4 separate regions of the Homo sapiens genome follow, and all the other regions are linked to region 3. Evidence: fine-mapped expression QTL. A gene starts in region 3. Each other region holds a variant in brackets. All regions are shown on one strand. Distances are from middle to middle.

Region 1 (5,249 bases), 160 kb before region 3:
CCCAGGCAGCCCAAGAAGAACAGTGCCTCTCTGAGCATGAGTCGTCCGCCCCCATCCCCACCCCGCCCCTGTGAGTCGTTTCAGGAGACAGTGTGGTGTAGTGGAAAGTGTCTTAGCCTGGGGGTCAGAAGATTTAGATGCTAATCTCAGCTCTGCCACTGAATGGATTATGTGATCTTGGGCAAATTCCCTTCCCAGTTTGTGAAATGGGCTTGCACCAAGTGATCTCTCCAGGCTCCTCCAGCTCTGGGATTCTGTGGTTCAGTGATTCTGACCAAGGCCAGAGCCGTTCCCTCCCCTTGGGGGCAGAAATGCAGGGTCTGGGATCGGATCCATTCCCAGAGACTCTCCATCTGCAGCCATCACCACCTCCAGGAAGGGGCTCCCTGAACAAAGGAGCCCCAAGGAATGGGGCTTTTGCCCAGTGATGGCAGGTTTCCTGGCCGTTGTCAGGAAAATTGACCCAAAGTTTACCCCCTGGGCTGCGATTCCCTGAAAAAGGTGGCAGCAACAGATGTCAGAGAGACCACTTCTCAGCCTACTGAGTTTCTGCCTGGTCAGCTGGAAAGGAAGCCCTCCTAGAGAGGGCTTGGAGATGACTTTGGTTGGGGGCAGTGCACAGCCTGGGAGCCCTGGGGGGGTCTGATTGAGCTGCCCAACCTTGATACTCTACCAAGCCCCTGGCCTTTGTCTCTGGAATGGAGCACGAAGGATGTGGTGATTAAGGAGGTCAAGTAAGGAAAGGGCTTAGAGTTCAGTCTTATGCCTCTGAGGTCATGGGTTCGTGAATTGAGGGTCTCAGTACCCTGACCTTTCATCTATTACACGTTCTAAAGTGTGTTTTTAACCGAATTCTTTCATGCTGTGCCCTTGGGTGGACACTGAATGTGGATAGCCATCCTCATTTGGCATATGGGGAAACTGAGGCTCAGGTAGGCTCAGTTGACCCCCACTCCCATACCTCTCTATTCCTAGCTGGGGATTTGTGCTGCTTTGAGATTTGCAAACTCTGAGCAGAGGTTGGGGTGGCAGTTGACCAAGCAGAAGCCAGGTCATGTAATAGAGCAGGCCTGGGTGCCAGGGGACCTAGGGATGTCTCCTCTTTTGAATGGGGTATAACTGCTACCACCTGATGCCTTGCCTGCCCTTACTGGGCCTGGATGGTTGGAGAGGTTGTAGTGAGGTAGTGAGGATCCCAACAGCCATCAGGGTCCGGCAAGCCCTTCCTCTTCACTCCAGGGCTTGCTAGGAGCCAGCAGAGGTGTGTAGTGCAGGCCTCCCAGCCCCTCACCAGCCACACACGTTTGTAGCCGGAGCTGCAATACCGCCCTGGTGGCCACAAGCCATGCTGCAGCCTCTGGCCCATCTGCCCTCACAGGCTCTTCGACTACCGGGGCCGTCTGTCGCCCGTGCCAGTGCCCAGGGCGGTCCCTGTGAAGCGACCCCGGGTCACAGTCCCTTTGGTCCGGCGTGTCAAAACTAACGTACCTGTCAAGCTCTTTGCCCGCTCCACAGCTGTCACCACCAGCTCAGCCAAGATCAAGTGTGAGTGACTGTATCATATTCCTAAGTAATTTGCATTTTTATCATTAGCAAAATAATAGAATCACATTTTTTACATTGGAACATAGATAAAACAACAAGTCTTCCACAGTTCTGCTGCTCTAACACAGCCAAGTATTTTCATGCATTTCTAAGAGGAAACAGCTGATGTTTTAGGAGGAGGGGTTGTGTTGGGCACAGAGAGTCCAGTGCTGGATATGGTGCCCAGTGAAGAAATGGTGCCATCTTTCCTCTAGTAAGGATAAGGACAGGTCTACCCAGGCCCATTACTCCACATTCACTCTGGTACACACATGCTGCTTAACTAATCACCCAGGAATTCAGATTCCAAAAGACACATGTTCTTGCTCAGGTGCACACAGAAGAGCACACCACACATACACACCTGTGCTCCTGTCTGTCTTTGGTCCCTTTCAGAGTTGAGAGATCAGGAGAAAAGATAGCCAGGTTCAGAAGTGTGTGCTGTCACTGTAGGGATGGACGCCAGGTAGTCTAAGGAGGAGACCTTTTTCCTAAGCAGGGAAAAAACAAAACAAAACAAAAAATAACTGCTTTCCTGGTTGAAAGAACAGGGCTGAGGTTTTGTGCTAGTGTCAAGCCTCCAGCCCCCTAGGTGACAGCCCTGTCCCCCCTCCACTCCCAGTAAAGAGCAGTGAGCTGCAGGCCATCAAGACGGAGCTGACACAGATCAAGTCCAATATCGATGCCCTGCTGAGCCGCTTGGAGCAGATCGCTGCGGAGCAAAAGGCCAATCCAGGTCAGCCTCTGAGGATTCTCACCCACCTCCATGACCAGGGCACAGGGCAGAGCATGGGGAAATAGTACATGGGAGAGAGGAGCTAGGGTGGCCCTGCAGATCCTGGACCACCTGCACTCACCATGCTGAGGCCAGCTTCCGCTAAGGTGCTGCCCTAGACAGCTACCCCAGGCTGAGTTTTATTCTCCCCTCCTCCACCCCTTCCCCTCAAGATGGCAAGAAGAAGGGTGATGGAGGTGGCGCCGGCGGCGGCGGCGGTGGTGGTGGCAGCGGTGGCGGTGGCAGTGGTGGTGGCGGTGGCGGTGGCAGCAGCCGGCCACCAGCCCCCCAAGAGAACACAACTTCTGAGGCAGGCCTGCCCCAGGGGGAAGCACGGACCCGAGACGACGGCGATGAGGAAGGGCTCCTGACACACAGCGAGGAAGAGCTGGTGAGGGCCTGGCCAGGGGCACGACTGGGACTCGACTGTGCTCCTACTCTCAGGAGGCCAACAGGGGAATGGGCAGCCTGAGCTGGTTGCCCCCACTGTGAACTTCCTGTTCTCTCCTTCCCAGGGGTTCTGGTCCTGGGGGAAAGAGGGAAGAATGAGCAGGGGGCACTTGCCTATCTCAGACACCATCAGAAGTCCCACTGAGGCCTAGGGCAGACCTCCCCCAAATGCGGGCACATTCTGGCCTCCGGTTTCCACATGAGTTGGAGAATGGGAGATTCGGACATAAGGGAGCACACACGGCCTGCAGAGCTTCAGAGCAGGGCTGGGGTGGCTTGTGGAGGCCACAGCCAGGAGGTGGGTTTTTCTAAAAGCCATTGCTGCTTAAGCATGAAGCAAAAGCTGTCTCATAAGGGGGTGAGCTCCCCGCCTGTTACTAGAACTATTCAGGCTGAGGCCGGCAGGCCATTTGACAAGGAGCTTATGTTGAGTGGGAGGGTGGACCAAACTCTGAGTCTGTGGGATATGGGTTGTACACTTGCTGCTCATTTACTTAATGAGCGCTCATTGAGCACCAAGACCCAGATCATACTCTCTAACTTCACATAACCTTAACAAGAGCCCTGTACTATGCAGAGTATTCTGTTCCCACATTTTACCCTGTGAGGAAATCGAGGCTCAGAAAGGCTGAGTGGC[A/G]TGCTCAGGGCATCAGCTCGTAGGGACTGAGCCAGGGTTGGAGTCCAGACTGACTTGCTGGATCTGCAGCTTTCTCCTTTTCAGCACTGCTGGGTTCTATCGTGAGAACAGATGGGCTCATGGCCATGACGGTTAGGAGGTCTGCCTTATGCTAGCTCATCTCTCCTTTGAGCGTAGCCTGATCCTTCATCTTATTTTCTCAGGCATAGCAGTGTCCATAAAGGCCCTAACAAAGACTTGGATGCCCCCAGAGATGGGGAGCTCACCAGTCTATAAGGCTTTCAGCCTTCTCCAGTGCAGGCTCTCTGCACAGAAATGGGGCTCCTGCCACTCCCAGAACACCCTTCACTGGCCTGTGTGGGGTCCTCAGACCACCCTTCCAAGTTCCCAAGCCAGCTTTGTTGGCTGGTCCCATAGTCATTCCCCTTGGCTGTTCCTGCGTCTTCTGACTGTGTCCTCTAGATGCCCTCTGGACCATGAAGTTTTTCTGGACAAATGGCTCAGGGCAGGACTCAGAGCTGGCAATGAGTGATGTGTGGTCTCTCTTACCTCCTCCCTATCAGGAACACAGCCAGGACACAGACGCGGATGATGGGGCCTTGCAGTAAGCAGGTACAGGGGTCCTGTCCTGATGGGCAGAGGGTGGGGAATCAGTGAAGTGGAGGTTGTGCCTTTTCCCTGGATTGGGCAGGAAGTGTCACGAAGCATACCTGGCCAAGTAGCACTGACTATACCCAAGAATGAAGTCCCCTCCATATCTAGCCATCCCGTCACACCCCTTCATGCTTGGGGCTTGCCATGCTGAGGAAGCAGGTGCCGTAGATGGGCCAGGCGGGCCCACCTAGCAAGGGTTCCTTCCCTCAGCACACTCAGCCATGTTGCCTGTCTCTGCCCTTGAGGAGCTCCTAGTCTGGTAGAGGAAGACATAAGCCATTACCACCTAGTGTGAGCAGGATAACAATAGAGCGAGGCCAGGTCATGGAAGAGATGATGTGTAGCTGAGCCTGCTAGTGATTGAGGGAGCAATGTTCCACACCAGGGGAATGGCCTTAGCCATACAGAGCTGTGACAGTCCTTGGTATGTGGTGAGGCCAAGAGCCTCCTGTGGCTGCAGTGCCCCCCTAGTTGGTAGAGGACTCTGCTTATTGTCAGAGGGTGATGATTGTGAAGGGCCGTATGTGTCAGGCTTAGGGGCTGGGATTTGATTCTTTCATGGGGAGGAAATGCCCTGTGTGACAGGAGCTGCACCTGCTTTCTCTGAGTTCATCTTCAATCCCACAAGCTGATGATTGTACCAATATAATAGATGTGGAAACAGACACTAAAGGGTGCAGGGAGATAAGGTAGTAGTTGGTGGAGCCTGGATTTCAGCCCAGTGGTGTGTGGCTTCAAAGCCCACTCTCTGGCCACTGTTTACCATCTACTCTGCCCTACCTTAAAGGAAAGCCAGGCCACACCTGGCTGTGCCTACTACTCTCTGACCCATTCCCTTGGGGTGGCTTGGGTGGAGGAAGGTCTCAAACACTAGTGTTTCCAGGGAGGTGTCTGGATAGATGACACATTTATGCTGTAGTAAGATATCCCACCAGCAAAGGCTTCCAGAAGAGCTTTAGAAAATTGTACATATGCAGTCTTCTTTTGGAACTTCTTGGTTTGTTTTGCCTGGGATGCAAACAAACCTCCATATCCAGCCATCCTGCTACACCCCTTTGTGCCTGGTGCTTTCCAAAGCTTGTTAAAATAGTTCACAGGTGAGTTATATGGGCTCAGGTGAGGAAATGGAGGTTCAGAGAGCGGGTGAGA
Region 2 (5,331 bases), 20 kb after region 3:
GAGCTTGAGTTAGAAAATATAGGCCAGGTGCAGTGGCAGTGGCTGGCGGATCACTTGAGGACAAGAGTTCGAGACCAGCCTGGCCAACATGGTGAAATCCCGTCTTTACTAAAAATACAAAAATTAGCCAGGTGTGGTGGTGGGCACCTGTAATCCCAGCTACTCTGGAGGCTGAGGCACGAGAATCTCTTGAACCTGGGAGGAGGAGGTTGCAGTGAGCCAAGATCGTGCCACTGCACTCCAGCCTAGCTGACAGAGCAAGACTCTGTCTCAAAAAAAATAAAAAGAGTTAGAAAATATAAAATGCTTAGTCTGGCCAATGTGGTAAAATCCTGTCTCTACAAAAAATACAAAAATTAGCCTGGCATAGTGATGGGCACCTGTAGCCCTAGCTACTGGGGCAGGAGACTGAGGCAGGAGAATCACTTGTACCTGGGAGGTGGAGGTTGCAGTGAGCCGAGATTATGCCACTGCACTCTAGCCTGGGCAACAAGAGAGAGACTCCATCTAAAAAAAAAAAAATCCAGCTAGCAAATAAATAAATACATAAATCCAGGGGGCCTATGTCAACAGCTCCATCCTCCTGACACAAACTATACCTGCATTCGTTCTCTCTGGGTTTGGGAATCTAGGATATGAGCCAACATATATGCTTGTCTGAAGGGGCCACTTACCTCTTCATCTTTCTCACTGAGACTTAATTTATTAGCCTTATTCTGTACATCTTAATAAAATCTCTGCTACTGTGAGGCCCTACTGGGGGCCTTTCAACAACTCTGCCCAGGCCTGGGGTCTCCTGGGGCCACAGACATTAAAAAAACACACAGAAGCAGCCAACACACCACCCTCTGGACAGCAGAGACCAGTGCAATGCATTGCTTTTTCTCTTTGCTCCAATCTCCTTCTGTTCCTTGTCTTTCTCTCTTCCTCTTCCCATCTCTCTTCTCTCTTCTTCCCTCATCAATTCCCCTTCCCCATCCTAAGCCTTGCTAATCCTCCAGCTCCACCAGGACACTTGCCTAACAGGGTCACAACACCAGCCCAAAGAAGCACAAAGAAAGCAGGAAGGCCTCTTACCATTACCCCTGACCCACCCACCTGACCACCTTCTCTGTCCCACTCAGGCCTCCTGGGATGGATGTCACCCGCTTACTCCTGGCCACCCTGCTGGTCTTCCTCTGCTTCTTCACTGCCAACAGCCACCTGCCACCTGAGGAGAAGCTCCGAGATGACAGGAGCCTGAGAAGCAACTCCTCTGTGAACCTACTGGATGTCCCTTCTGTCTCTATTGTGGGTAAGTCACCTAGCCTCTGGGCTCTGGCCCAGGAGAGGGGCTGCAGGAGATCAAGCATGCTTCCCAGGGTGCTACCAGGATCCACCGCCATGGTCACGGCTCCTTCTTGCTCGTTCCAGGAAATAATCCTGGGAGAATAAGGTGGCCCTTGACTCATTTGGTTTGGGAAAGCTCTGCATGCCACCAGTCTAATAAGCAGCTTAGCATATGGTAGAGGCTCTGAAAGGCCTGAAGTTAAGACACTTGGTGAACTTTGTTTAATTTAGCATTTCTGAAACTTAATGAATCACAGAACTCCTGTCAACAGTAACAAACTTCAGGAAATGCTCCAGAACATATGCAAGTCTGGGATGGACCAGTCCTGTCATGTCAGGGTTGGGAATGAAGGCTCAGGGGAAAATATGAGGGGCACTGGAGCCTGGCATTGGAGATCTGGTTTGACTTCACCTGATAATAATCATAGACATACTGTGTGGTAGGCACTGTGAGGTGAGTATGGTCTTTATTCATATTTCACAGTTGAGGAACTTGAGGCTTAGGAGAATTAAGTAACTAGCACGGATCACACAGTTTTTAACTGGCAAAGCCAGAATTCAAAATCAGGTACTTAACTCCAGAACCTAAGCTCAAAACTAATATCTCTTACTACCTCGGCTTTTGCTAGGAAACGAGGATATTTGAGGCTGGGTGAGGTGGCTCACACCTGTAATCCCAGCACTTTGGGAAGCTGGAGGCATGAGGATTGTTTGAGCCTAGGAGTTCAAGACCAGACTGAGCGACATAGGGAGACCCCGTCTCTACAGAAAAATTTAAAAACTAGCAAGGCACGTGGCATGCACCTGTAATCCCAGCACTTTCGTAGGCTGAGGCGGGCAGATCTCTTGAGCTCAGGTGTTCAAGACCAGCCTGGTCAACAGGGTGAAACCCCGTCCCTATTAAAAATACAAAAATTAACCAGGCATGGTAGCATGCGCCTGTAGTCCTAGCTACTTGGGAGGCTGAGGCAGGAGGATCACTTGAGCCCAGGAGTTTGAGCCTACAATGAGCCATGATTGTGCCACTGCACTCCAGCCTG[A/G]GTGACAGAGTGAGATCCTGTCTCAAAAACAAACAAACAAAAACTAGCCGGGAATGGTGGTGCATGCCTATGGTTCCAGCTATTTGGGAGGCTGAGGCAGGAGGATTGCTTGAGCCCAGGAGGTCGACGCTGCAGTGAGCTATGATCACACCATTGCACTCCAGCCTGGGTGACAGACAGACCCTGACTCAAAAAAGAAATTTTTTAATAAATAAATAATCGGCCAGGCGCGGTGGCTCACACCTCTAATCCCAGCGCTTTGGGAGGCCAAGGTGGGCAGATCACCTGAGGTCAAGAGTTTGAGACCAGCCTGGCCAACATGGCAAAACCCCATCTCTACTAAAAATACAAAAATTAGCCAGGTGTGGTGGTACATGCCTGTAATCCCAGCTACTTGGGAGGCTGAGACAGGAAAATCACTTGAACCCAGGAGGCAGAAGTCACAGTGAGCCGAGATCGCACCACTGTACTCCAGCCTGGGCAACAGAGTGAGACTCTGTCTCAAAAGAAAAAAAAAAGAAGAAGAAGAAAGAAAGAGGATATTCTACACATATCAGACAGGGAAGGGAGGAACATCAACATTTATTGATCTTCAGTGTAACAGACTTTTCACTTTATAAACAGACTTCATTTATCCTCAAGACAATACTGCAAGGCAGATATTATGGAACCTTTTTTGCAGATGAAAAAACTGAGTCTCATGGAGGATAAGTAAGTTACCCACAGCCACATAGTCATTATATTGGCAGAGTCAGGATTCAAATCAGGTCCTCCTGGCTCCAGAGCTCTCAGGAATGGAAAATAGGAAACACAGGTGCATCTGTGTACAAGACAGGAGTCCATTTTCTGGGTATCACAATGTTCCTGTGCCTGCCACAATGGAGATGAAGGAAGGGGCACCTGGGGTGGCTCTGAGTGGCCCAAGCTCACTTAGGTCGAGGGACCAGGCCCCACAAGAGTGTCACAGGCAGATCCCAGTGCCTGCTTGGATTTCCCATTTGCCTTCCCTCAGAGGACACGTTGCTATCAGTGCCTGGCTCCAGGTCAGTAGCCGGGCTAACAAGAACCTACTGGCTTGAGTCCTACAGTGTGACTCATCCAGCACGCTTCTTCTCCTCTCCCTGACCTTGTGACTTCCCAAGCCCCCTCTGCCCCTCTCACTTCACTGCAGCTCAACGTCCCCAGAAACATCTGACTTTGCTCCTTTTGTCTCTCTTTGAAGCGCTGAACAAGAAATCCAAACAGATCGGCAGAAAAGCAGCAGAAAAGAAAAGATCTTCTAAGGTAAGGGCAGGGAAGTTCTGGGAGTTCTCATTGTTGGGGTGAGACTGGACTTAAAGAAGGAGGACCCCCAACCTCTGGCTAGGAACTAAATGAAAGATTTTTCAGGCCTATATTAACAAAAGAAACTGAAAGCTACTAAAGACTTCCTGGCTTGAGCTCTGAGCCAGACACCCACAGAAGCCCAGGGAGCTGAAGTCCACTGAGCAAAATAGGTTACGAAAAGCAGCTTCCTCTACTAGTTAGCCCCTGCCTGAAATTTCACCATCACTCATACTTTTGGATGAATGTGGTGTTTCCCAAACCTCAGTCATTTCAGAACCACATTTATAACTTTGCCATATCTGAGTTCCACCTATTTATTTAACATATTTGTTTAAAATTAAATCTTAGGCCGGATGCGGTGGCTCACGCCTATAATCCCAGCACTTTGGGAGGCCAAGGTGGGTGAATCACCTGAGGTCAGGAGTTCGAGACTAGCCTGGCCAACATGGTGAAACCCCGTCTCTACTAAAAATACAAAAATTAGCCAGGCGTGGTGGTGGGCGCCTGTAATCCCAGCTACTTGGGAGGCTGAGGCAGGAGAATTGCTTGTACCCGGGAGGTGGAGGTTGCAGTGAGCTTGAGCCATTGCACTCCAGCCTGGTGACAAGAGTGAAACTCTGTCTCAAAACAACAACAACAAAAAATTAAAACTTAAAAAATGCAGTTGACTCTTGAACACATGTGTTTGAACTCATGGGTCCACTTATACATTGGTTATTTTATGTCTTTTTTTTTTTTTCTTTTTTTTTGAGATGGAGTTTTCGCTCTCGTTGCCCAGGCCAGAGTTCGGTGGCGTGATCTTGGCTCACTGCAACCTTCACCTGGCGAGTTCAAGCGATTCTCATGCCTCAGCCTCCCGAGTAGCTGGAATTACAGGCACATGCCACCATGCCCAGCTAATGTTTTTGTATTTTTAGTAGAGATGGGGTTTCGCCAAGTTTGTCAGGCTGGTCTCGAACTCCTGACCTCAGGTGATCCACCTGCCTCAGCCTACCAAAGTGCTGGGATTACAGGGGTGAGCCACCTTGCCCAGCTGACTTTTTAAATTGGAAAATATTTTTGAAGATTGACAATTAGAAAAAACAGGTGAATCTTGTTACCTAGAAATATTTAAAAAATGAAAAAAAAGTATGTCATTAATGCATAAAATATATGTAGATACTAGTCTATTTTATCACTTGCTATCATACAATATACATAAATCTATTATAAAAAATTAAAATTTCCCAAAACATATGTACACACAGACAGTACATACCATTCAAAATAGAAAGAAAATAACCAAATGTAAAGATGTAGTACTAAATCATAACTGTGTAAACAACTGCAGTACATACTGTACTACCATCATAATTGTGAAGATACCTCCTGTTGCCATTGCGGCATGCTCAGGTGTTGCGAGTACGTGCTTACAACGCTCTGTGAGCTAATCATCTCTGCACAAGGAGTCTCACCAGGAAATCACATATTGCAGTAAAATGTGATCCCTCAAGGTTCTCGTGTATTTTTCAATGTGTTTAATGCAATATTGTAAACCTTGAGTAGTACCAAGGGACCCATACTAGGTGCTACTAGTGATTCTGGAAGTGTTCCCAAGAAGCAAAGAAGAGTCATGACATTACAAGAAAAAGTTGCT
Region 3 (5,331 bases):
CTGCCTCCCAGGTTCAAGCGATTCTCCTGCCTCAGCCTCCCAAGTAGCTGGGACTACAGGCACCTGCCACCACACCTGGCTATTTTTTGTATTTTTAGTAGAGACGGGGTATCACCATGTTGGCCAGGCTCTTCTCGAACTCCTGACCTCAGGTGATCCACCCACCTCGGCCTCCCAATCAAATTCTTTATCCAAAGCCTTACTTGGTGGGTCATATAATGAACTAAAATTTGGAAAACATTCACATTTGTGGAATGCTTCAGAGTTTTCAAGGCGTCTACATTATCTCATTGGATCCTCTTTTCAGCCCAGTGTGGTTGGTAGATGAGATAGCAGTGTTCAGACAGTTTATGTGACTTGTCCAAGATCAGAGAGAAAGTAACAAAGCCTAAACTGGAATCCAGATCTCCTGACTCCCTATTCACTTATCTTTCCAGTTGCCCTTGTCTCTACAAATCACCAAAAGAAATTGGTTCCTAGAAATAAGGATAATGTAGGGGTGTGCCATCCCCTATCCCACTCTTCTGCACCCATCACCACGAAAACAGACAATGTTTATTGCAGGGCCCCATATTAACCTACTTTCTTCTGCAGAGCCTCTAAGCTCCACATTATCCAGGAAGCAATACATTGTGACTGTTGAAGTCAAAATAAAACATAGCGATGAATCTCTAACTTTAAAGCATTCTATTTTGGAAGCAAGGATTGCAGTTTGAGGCATACACACTAACCAGGTGGTCTTCAGTGTGTCTGAGGAACAGAAAGAAGGTTGGGAGTTTTATTAGAGAAATGTTCTATACTGTTTTGAAAGAAAGCTCATTGGCACTAAAGAATCATTTGGAAAGAAGGGAAAAAAAGAGAAAAAAGAAGCATTTGGGAGCTGGCAAACTCTGATTGGTGAGTGATGGTGGTAGGCAAAACTATTCTTAAAGTCATGTTTCAGCAGCTACTAAACTAGTCTTGGGGTTACAGCAGGCCATTTTAGCAGCTGGGCTTGTGAAAAATTTAATTCATGGAGCAGGTGCTGTGCCCCAAGTGCTTCTTCCCTCCTGGTCCCTAGACTCTGATTTAGTTGGGTATGACAAGAATGACCCAGTTTGTGTGATCAGCTTTCACATAACCTTGTAAATTCTAGTTGATCCAAGGAAAACCAACTAAGTAAGGAGAAGAAAAGAACTGCAGCGTCATAGTTTTTGAGTCTGTGTAAGTACAGCCCTTTGACTGAAATCTGAAAATTATGAGACCAATATTCCTGCAAAAAAAGGTCCCAAAGAGATTTTACTAATAAGGTGGGCTGGGCCTCAGCAATCTGCCCATCAAGAGTTTAGCTTCTCCACCAACTACTCCTTAACTCACCCGGAATTTCTGAAACAAGCTGAATTAGACCCTTCTTTGGCAGGACTTGTTTTTCTAGGTTAACTCAATTAGACTGTTTTATTCCGTCTCTTGGGATCCATTCTGAATTAAATTTTCATTAAACTCTGCCCTTGGAGTATCCTTGATGCAACCACTTCCCTTCCAATCCCTTGTAACCTCAATGTCAACATCAATTCCAATTCTAAAGAATTGGGAGAAATATGGGAAGAACAGACCACAAGACTTCTGGCAACCAGAATGAGTATGAAGGCATGACGTTTGCTTGGCTGAAAGCAAAGAGATGAGGTGGGGAAGCCAGCTCTGGGAGATCCTGGGATCTTTAAAAAATCTCAGAGCAACACGCCTTGCCTCTGCTATCCACGGACAGGAAAGACGCTCTGCTTTGGCGACCCTTAGAGGGGCTAATAGAGGCACAGTCACTTGCACCGTAAATAGGAGGAAACAATTTTCTTTTCTTCTGCCGCCTATAGAGATTCTATTTTCTTCTCTAAGTTTAACTTTTATATGAACTGGGTTGCTAGAGAGCTCCTTTGTAAAATAAAGGATAACCCTTTACCTTTTGCTTCTTTTGTAAAACCTCTCTTGATCTGCTTGCAGCTGCCTTTCAGCTGATGAAACATTTCCTATTTTCACTGTGGATCTGAAAGAACCTTCCTGCCTGTGAGATGTGGTGAAGTTTGAAATAATTTTGTAGTATGATTGGTTGTTTTCTTGTTCTTGTCTTTGAAGTTATAGATGAGCAAGCAGCAAATCTCTACAGCTGCAAGGTGAAAAAGGAAGTTCCTTGGCCTGGGCTCTTTGCGGGAAAGCATGTGAGTTTAGATGGCAACTTTAATCTGCTTTCAGGAGTGAAGCTGCTGCTACTTTGGAAAGTTGAAAGGACTTAACAGTTATCCCTCCTTTCTTGGAAAGTTAAACAGATTTTTTTGATTCACTTTTGTGGGTCAGAGTAGTTAAGAGGAGTTCAGTGTGAAGAAAGCAGTTGATCTTTTGCTAACTAGTGGCTTCTTTCTCTTTACTCTGTGCCTTTTCCATTGCCTAGCAGTAAACGAATAAATAAATATATCTATATGTATATCTAAGAAAGAAGTACTCCTAAATATCGACCCTGACCCCAAAGTCACACTTTAATGCTTCTTTAAATGTCTTCAGAAAGTTGCTTGTGGTTTCAGATTTCTAATAACTCTTACAGAGCAGAATTTAGGATTTAGGGATCAGTCTGCACGTGTAGCATTTGTTCATTTCATATTTATTAGAGATGAAACAGATGACCAAAATTCCATTTATTGCAGACTCTCCTTTTCCTTTGTAAATGTTTGACTTTTCTGAATGGATATCCATATTCACACATTTTAATGCCCATTAAAGGAAGCTCAGGTTAATGTTTTCAATTGTAGGTGAGTTCGCTCTGCTTCAGTGATATGGAACATTTTGTTCTGCTGTTTCCATTGGAGGAGATTAAAGAGGCTAAATGGGATGGCATAGTGAAGTCATTTTTGGTTTCCTTTTTAAAATTTTTATTTTATTTTATTTTATTATTTTTATTTTATTTTATTTATTTACTTATTTATTTTTGAGACGGAGTCTCACTGTCACCCAGGCTGGAGTGCAATGGCATGATCTTGGCTCACTGCAACCTCTGCCTCCTGAGTTCAAACGATTCTCCCACCTCAGGCTCCTGAGTAGCTGGGACAACAGGCACACACCACCACGCCTGGCTAATTTTTGTATTTTTAGTAGAGACAGGGTTCCACTATGTTGGCCAGGCTAGTCTCAAACTCCTGGCCTCAGGTGATCTGCCCACCTCAGCCTCCCAAAGTGCTGGGATTACAGGCGTGAGCCACAGCACCCAGCCAGTCATTTTGGGTTTTCTTTGGTTATTTTGGATGCCTTACTGGGACCCACTCAAAAAACAAACAAACAACAAAACAAAACAAAATGAAAAACACTTTCATAAATGTCTGTCTCAAAACCTTTTCTACTTTCTCCAAATAGAACTAATGCATACATATTCTTAAGATTTGCTCAGCTATATCTCCTTGGTTCTGACTTAATCCTCTTCTGCAGAAAATTTCATCTCACATCAAAGCCTCTTCCCTCCTTCTGCTGTAAAGTTGTTGAGAGCTGTCACAGACTGTCAGCTCAGCTTCAGCTATGCTTAATGAGTGCTTGTGCAGAATGCACCCCAGGTAAAGGAATTCAGAAATCAAAAGACATGATTACTGAGAAGGAGAAAAGGCAGAGAAGTGATTTCTGGAGAGCATAAACAAAACCAATATAGTACCCACTAAGGTCTTTGTTGAGTAATGATAGATAAAACAGCCTAAAGGGAATGATGTCAGGAGATCTAAAACAATCATTTAGCATCGCCTATCAGCATTGTATTCCTTGTACACTGTGGGAATGAACATCTGGGAAGCCTAGACTCTGACCCCTGTTTCAGTGGAACAGGGAGACAGATTTCACACTGACAAACAGCTGCCTGAAGGAGTCTTGTCCTTTTGTCCCTTGAGAAGGGACACAGCCTCAAGTCTTCTCTCAAGTTCTAACTCAGGACCCCTCAGGCAGTCTGGGCCTGCCATATGGTTCTTGGTCTCAAAGAAGAGTTCTGAAGCAGGTTGTCTACAGAAGATTCAAACCACCCATTAAAATATTATTCAATTTGGCATCTGTTAGGCATAACAATTAGACTAGCCAATTCAGTCACAATAGTGAAATCGGTACGTGTATGTAGATACAGCCCAAGAGATCAAATAATTTTAGTGTTGTTAAGAAAAAATTATTCTGAATTTTTTTTTACACAAGGACAATTTTAATCCTGCATTTTCCTGTGGTAACATCCACTGCTGGCTAGCTATGGATTGAAACTGCATTTGCTAAGAACTGTGGAGCACATGTTGATACAGGCACACAGACATCTGCCAGCACCAACAGAATACATATGTAACACATACCAGATAGTCTCGATGGATAAATTTGCTCCACCAGTAATTCTATTTAGTAGAATTCACAGTTAATGCAGAATTTCATTTTTAAATTTTACATCTTTCTAATACTTTACATTTTTCTAATATTGTATTTAAAAAAAAAAAAAAAAAACTGTCTCGCCGGGCGCGGTGGCTCACGCCTGTAATCCCAGCACTTTGGGAGGCCGAGGCGGGTGGATCATGAAGTCAGGAGATCGAGACCATCCTGGCTAACACGATGAAACCCCGTCTCTACTAAAAATACAAAAAAATTAACCGGGCGTGGTGGCGGGCGCCTGTAGTCCCAGCTACTCAGGAGGCTGAGGCAGGAGAATGGCGTGAACCCGGGAAGCGGAGCTTGCAGTGAGCCGAGATTGCGCCACTGCACTCCAGCCTGGGCGACAGAGTGAGACTCCATCTCAAAACAAACAAACAAACAAAAAAACTCTCATTCAAGATCGTAATTTGCATGACAATAAACCATGGTTTTGTGGGCTCTAAGTTTCTTAGAAGTGTCCGCAGCAATTTAGAACAAACACCGCAAGTCTTCCTTCCAATTTGCAGCATCTGATTTAAAGTTTAAATTCATCTAATGCATCATTAAAACTGTCATTTTTACTTCTCTTGTCATTAAAACTTCTCTTGTGAGAAGACATGTTTCACTTGCTATTTCCAGGACTACATCTTGAGCATGGGTGTACAGTATTTTTCATTGGTTAGCAGAATTTTACTCACATAATTTATAGCCAGAATAAGAACCTCTAGCCTCTCTGAATGGCCTTCCACTCAGAACAATGATGATGATTAATGTCTAAAATGTGTCTGAGGTGCCCGCCTTTGACATTACCAAAATGTTTCCAAGTAATCTTAGAAAATATGATTCTTTAAACATATGCGTAATATTCTACCACACAATGTGCCATCACTTGTTTAATCATTTTCCAATTGTTCATTTGTAACATTTGCAATTTTTCATTATAAATAATAT
Region 4 (5,331 bases), 360 kb before region 3:
CAGTGAGGAGGGCAGCGGGACGCTACACTGACTTCTTCCCTTGCAAAGGTGCGGGGTGAATCTGTCTGGAGCAGGGCGGGCAGAAGACATCTTCCTAAGATGTCTTCCACGGGGAGCGGTGGGCCTCTGGGATGCCCAAGGTCTCTGCCATCACTCTCTGGTCTCTACACTTTCAGAGGGATCGTGGAGCACTGAATTGCATGGGATCTTAAGATTTCATCTACTCTGGGTGTTTTCAAAACTTTTTTTTTTTTTTAAGAGTTGGGGTCTCGCAGCCTGGCGCGGTGGCTCACGCCTGTAATCCCAGCACTTCGGGAGGCCGAGGTGGGTGAATCACAAGGTCAGGAGATCGAGACCATCCTGGCCAACACGGTGAAACCCCGTCTCTACTAAAAATACAAACATTAGCCGGGCATGGTGGCGGGCGCCTTGTAGTCCCAGCTACTTGGGAGGCTGAGGCAGGAGAATGGCGTGAACCCGGGAGGTGGAGCTTGCAGTGAGCCGAGTTTGCATCACTGCACTCCAGCCTGGGGGACAGAGCAAAATTCCGTCTAAAAAAAAAAAAAAAGAGAGATGGGGTCTTGCTTGTTGACCAGGCTGGAGCACAGTGGTTTGATCATAGCTCACTGCAGCCTGGAACTCCTGTTCTCAAATAATCCTCCTGCCTCAGCCTCCCAAGTAGCTGGGACTACAGTTGTGTGCCACCATAGCCAGCTCCAAATTTATCTTTAAAACTTGTTATAGGCCAGGCACCATGACTTATGCCTGTAATCCCAGAGTTTTGGGAGGCTAAGGTGGGCGGATTGTTTGAGCTAAGGAATTTGAGACCAGTCTGGGCAACATGGTGAAACCCTGTCTCTTCAAAAAAAAATAAATAAATAACATTAGCTTAGTATGGTGGTGCGTGCCTGTAGTCCCAGCTACTCAGGAGGCTGAGGTCTGATGATCACTTGAGCCTGGGAGGTCGAGGCTGCAGTGAGCCATGATTGCACCACTGCACTCCAGCCTGGGTGACAGAGTGAGACTGTGTCTCAAAAAAACAAAAACAAAAACAAAACTTGTTACAGAGCCCTTTCTCCAAGGAATATCTTACATCAAAGCCAGATATATAAGAGAAACCATGAGGGACCGACTCTATTTGAGGTGGGGAACTGGGAGACCCAGCTCTTTGATGGCTCCCTTCACTGTGGCTGTAAGACCCTTGGAGAGATCAAGTTCAGCCACCTCATTTTCCCAGTCTGCTTCCACCTGCCTAAAGTCACCCCCAAATCTGACACTACATGGCACATGTCAGTGGGATGCTCGAGGAATAAAAGCCACGTGGGTGTTCTGCTGTTGCTCACCAACCACACTGCAGTGCTGGGAGCCGTATCCTGGCAAGTGTTCAAGGTGGCGCTAGGGAACAGAGAAGGGGTTGTGAGGGTGTCGTGGGCACAGGCCCCGGAGGGACAGTGAGCTTAATAGGAGTGTGTGTGTGTGTGTGTGTGTGTGTGTGTGTGTGTGTGTGATGGTGGTGGTGGTGGTGCTGGTGGTGGTGTGGGGATTACAAACAGGAAGGAAATCTCATTAGATGGGCTGGGTCTTGGTCCAAAGACCAGATAAACTAGGATGTCACAGGTGGGGACAGAGTCCAAGATTCAATGTCTTCAGAACTCTCCTGATCAATAGTTATGAGATTCCATGATTCACAAAGACAGGGACCATGTTTCATTTATTTAACACATATTTATTTACCTCTTTCAAACAACAAGCTGGGGGAACCGATCTTACTGATTTAGTTAGCATCTATGGGAAAGCTGTGGTGTCAATCAGGGCTCTTTTGGTTGAAAATGAGAGAACATTATAACTCATTCCCCGTCCCTCAATGAATTGGGACTTTGTGGGCACCTGAAACTGAAAAGTTCAGGAGTATCTTCAGGTTGAACTTGATCAAAGACTCAAATAACATGACCAAGATGGGATTCACTTCTCTATCTCTTTAATCATTTTCCTTCTTGTTGAAGCACATCCTTTAATCTTTTGGTGAGGGCCTGTGGGTAGTAAACTCTAAATCATGTATATCTGGAAATATATATATATATATATATTTTTTTTTTTTTTTTTGAGACAGAGTCTTGCTCTATTGTCCAGGCTGGAGGGCAGTGGCACAACCTCCACCCACTGGGTTCAAGCTATTTTCATGCCTCAGCCTCCTGAGTAGCTGGGACTATAGGTGTGCACCACCACACCCAGCTAATTTTTGTATTTTTAGCAGAGACAGGGTCTCGACTTGTTGGCCAGGCTGGTCTTGAACTTCTGGCCTCAAGTGATCCACCCACCTCAGCCTCCCAAAGTGCTGGGATTACAGGCATGAGCCACCACGCCCAACCTGGAAATATGTTTTGATCTCACTCTTCAGTGACAGTTTAGCTAGGTATAGAATTCTAGGCTGACAAGTATTTTTTCACTGTGTTTGGAGATATTAGTCTACTCCTTTCTGGCTCCTATTGTTGCTAATTAGAAGTCTATTTTTTAGTCTAATTGTTTCTTTGAAAGGAATCTGTCTTTCCCACCCTTCTGGCAGCTTCAAAAGTTTTCTCTTTACCCTTAAAGTTGTCCAAGTGCAATTAGACATGCCTAAGCGTAGATTTTATTTATTTGTTTATTTTTGAGACAAGATCTGGCTCTGTCACCCAGACTGGATCGCAGTGGCATAATCATAGTTCACTGCAGCCTTGACCTCCTGAACTCGGGTAATCCTCCTGCCTCAGCCTCCCAAGTAGCTGGGACCACAGGCACATGCCACCACACCCAGCTAATTTTAAAA[TTATTTG/T]TAGAGACAGAGTCTCCCTATATTGTCCAGGCTGGTCTTGAACTCCTGGACTCAAGTGATCCTCTTGCCTTGGCCTCCCAAAGTGCTGAGATTACATGTTTGAGCCACTGCACTCAGCCTAGATTTATTTTTATCCCACTCTGAACTATGGCTTTTCTCTGTGAAGACAGTGCTTTCTTCAATTTGAAAAATTCTTATATATTATATTTTACTATATTTTATTTTATTTTATTTTATTTTTTTGAGACAGAGTCTCACTCTGTCACCCAGGTTGGAATGCAGTGGTGTGATCTCAGCTCTCTGCAACCTCCGCCTCCTGTCTCAGCCTCCTGAGTAGCGGGGATTACAGGTGCCCGCCACCATACCTGGCTAATTTTTGTATTTTTTAGTAAAGACAGGGTTTCATCATGTTGGCCAGGCTGGTCTCGAACTCCTAACCTCAAGTGATCTGCCTGCCTCAGCCTCCCAAAGTTCTGGGCCATGCCTGGCCCCTATTATAGTTTCCTTTATTGCTTTTCCCACATCCTCTTTACTGTCTCTTATTGGAATTCCTATTCCTGTTGTACATCCTATTAGATATATAATGGATCATTTCATTTCATCCTCCATCTTAACTTCCCCTTTATGTTTCACATTTCTTTATCTCTCTCTGTGCTGTATTCTGGGCGAACACCTCTGATAGGTGTTCTATAGCCCCCAATACTTCTGAGTGTGATTATATTGGAGATAGGGTCTTTGAAGAGGTGACTAAGTTAAAATGAGGCTATCAGGGTGGCCCCTAATGCAATCTGACTGGTGTCCCTATAAGAGGAAATGTGGATGCACCAAGGGGCAGGAAGGATGAGCATGCGCAAGGGAGACCATGTGAGGACACAGCAAGGAGGTGGCCGTCTGCAAGCCAAAGAGCAAGACCTCCGATAAAACCAAACACCAGCACCCTGATCTGGGACTTCTAGCCTCCAGAACTGAAAGTTAATAGATTGCTGTTGCTTAAGCCACTCTACTGTTTTATTATGACAGGGCCAGTAAATGAATATGACAGACTACTGTCAAACCCACCTATTGAGTTTCTCTCTTTCTTTTTGCTTTGTTTGTTTTTTCAGTTTATCTTGGGTGACTTTTTTTTTTCTATGGCCCAGGGCAAGACACCCACTTCTAGGCTGCAGCCCAAGGTTATTGGGCAGTTTTTCCAGTCCCAAGAAGAAACAGCTGACTTCCAGCTTTTTCCTGATGTAGGGAGCCTAGTTTCAGCTGGAGGGCTCTCACAGGGCCAGGAGCCTTGTCTTTCGTCCTCACAGAGGCATTCAAACCCCAGTGCCATTCAGAAGTCTGGATATGGCAGCCCCAGGTGACTTAGTGGCTCCATGAAGCTGCCAGGGACTTGGACACCTTTGATCTTCACATTTTAGCACCCTTGGGGTGCGGCTTTAACCCTCTTGTTGCACTTCCAGGCATCTCATCTCCAAATGCCCCATGTCTTCTGTCTTTTGTTTGCTTCTTTGTTTTGAGACAGGGTCTCACTCCATCACCCAGGCTGGAGTGCAGTGGTGTGATTACAGCTCACTGCAACCTCAACCTCCCAGGCTCAAGTGAACCTCCTACCTCGGCCTCCTGAGTAGCTGGGACTACAGGTGTGTGCCACCACACCTGGCTAACTTAATTTTTTTTTTTTTTTTGAGACAGTTTCACTCTTGTTGTCCAGGCTGGAGTGCAATGGTGAAATCTCAGCTTGCTGCAACCTCTGCCTCTTGGGTTCAAGCGATTCTCCTGCCTCAGCCTCCCGAGTAGCTGGGATTACAGGTATGTGCCACCACGCCCGGCTAATTTTGTATTTTTAGTAAAGACAGGGTTTCACCATGTTGGTCAGGCTGGTCTTGAACTCCCGACCTCAGGTGATCTACTGACCTCGGCCTCCCAAAGTGCTGAGATTACAGGCATGAGCCACCGCACCCGGAAATTTTTTTTTTTTTTTTTGTAGAGACAGGTCACGCTATGTTGCCCAGGCTGGTCTCAAACTCCTGAGCTCAAGCGATCCTCCTGCGTCTGCCTACAAAAGTGTTGAAACTACAGCCACAAGCCAACGCGCCCGGCCTTATGTGTTATCTCTTGCCACATAGTGGCCTCTGCTCCAAGGGAAGCGGGAAGAGTGAGTTTTTTCAGTGGTACCTTTCCTCCCCATCCTGAAAACAAATGTGATTCTCCTCCTAAAGAAGTAGAGCAAGTGGGTGTAGAGTTGTTAACATGCAATGTCTGCCACATAAAACATGATCCCCATTTTGGTGAGGAAATCACAGCCTGGAGAGGTGTGGTGATTTACACAGCCTGGATTCGATTGCACTGAGCCTGCCCCACCCTCACCCTGCTCTGATTCAGGGACCCTGGCCTGGCCCTCATCTTTGGTGGTTGCTGTCGTCAAGGCACTGGCCTTGCGTGATGGATGAGCAGGCAGCCTCATTAAACACAAACCCTTGTTGGTTTCCCAAAGCCCACAGGAGCAGCGAGGCCCGGGATCTGGGAGC

Which allele goes with the higher level. Positions count from the first base shown, and alleles are read on the strand shown. Sizes are in standard deviations (SD) of each study's normalised expression.
As copies of A replace G in region 1, the expression in unexposed skin of the gene that starts at base 2,123 in region 3 goes up (moderate effect, 0.58 SD a copy in GTEx).
With allele G in place of A in region 2, the expression in skin of the gene that starts at base 2,123 in region 3 is lower (large effect, 1.1 SD a copy in TwinsUK).
As copies of T replace TTATTTG in region 4, the expression in tibial nerve of the gene that starts at base 2,123 in region 3 goes up (moderate effect, 0.52 SD a copy in GTEx).

What was found. PIP is the estimated chance that this variant, and not a neighbour inherited with it, causes the effect. A credible set is the group of variants that fine-mapping cannot tell apart.
Region 1: its variant is the best candidate, but not a certain one, in a credible set for the expression of ASIP in unexposed skin (GTEx, PIP 0.53).
Region 2: its variant is the best candidate, but not a certain one, in a credible set for the expression of ASIP in skin (TwinsUK, PIP 0.83).
Region 4: its variant is the best candidate, but not a certain one, in a credible set for the expression of ASIP in tibial nerve (GTEx, PIP 0.79).

Annotation. Positions count from the first base shown.
Region 1 is chr20:34,074,496-34,079,744 of GRCh38, forward strand. RALY (RALY heterogeneous nuclear ribonucleoprotein) reads left to right here. Exons shown (of 10, transcript NM_016732.3): 6 at 1,379-1,545; 7 at 2,207-2,320; 8 at 2,533-2,750; 9 at 4,010-4,058. The coding sequence ends at 4,054. Among named protein-coding and RNA genes, the nearest start is that of MIR4755, 28 kb to the left of the region's middle. RefSeq lists an enhancer at 1,905-3,104. The variant A/G (reference allele first, on the strand shown) is at 3,447.
Region 2 is chr20:34,259,241-34,264,571 of GRCh38, forward strand. ASIP (agouti signaling protein) reads left to right here. Exons shown (of 4, transcript NM_001672.3): 2 at 1,125-1,294; 3 at 3,592-3,653. The coding sequence starts at 1,135. It also overlaps a transcript of AHCY not described here. Among named protein-coding and RNA genes, the nearest start is that of ASIP, 20 kb to the left of the region's middle. The variant A/G (reference allele first, on the strand shown) is at 2,370.
Region 3 is chr20:34,239,301-34,244,631 of GRCh38, forward strand. It overlaps ASIP (agouti signaling protein), which reads left to right and starts at 2,123. Exons shown (of 4, transcript NM_001672.3): 1 at 2,123-2,189. It also overlaps a transcript of AHCY not described here. RefSeq lists enhancers at 1,922-1,991, 2,012-2,161, 3,215-3,716.
Region 4 is chr20:33,876,945-33,882,275 of GRCh38, forward strand. No RefSeq gene overlaps it. Among named protein-coding and RNA genes, the nearest start is that of CHMP4B, 68 kb to the left of the region's middle. The variant TTATTTG/T (reference allele first, on the strand shown) is at 2,807.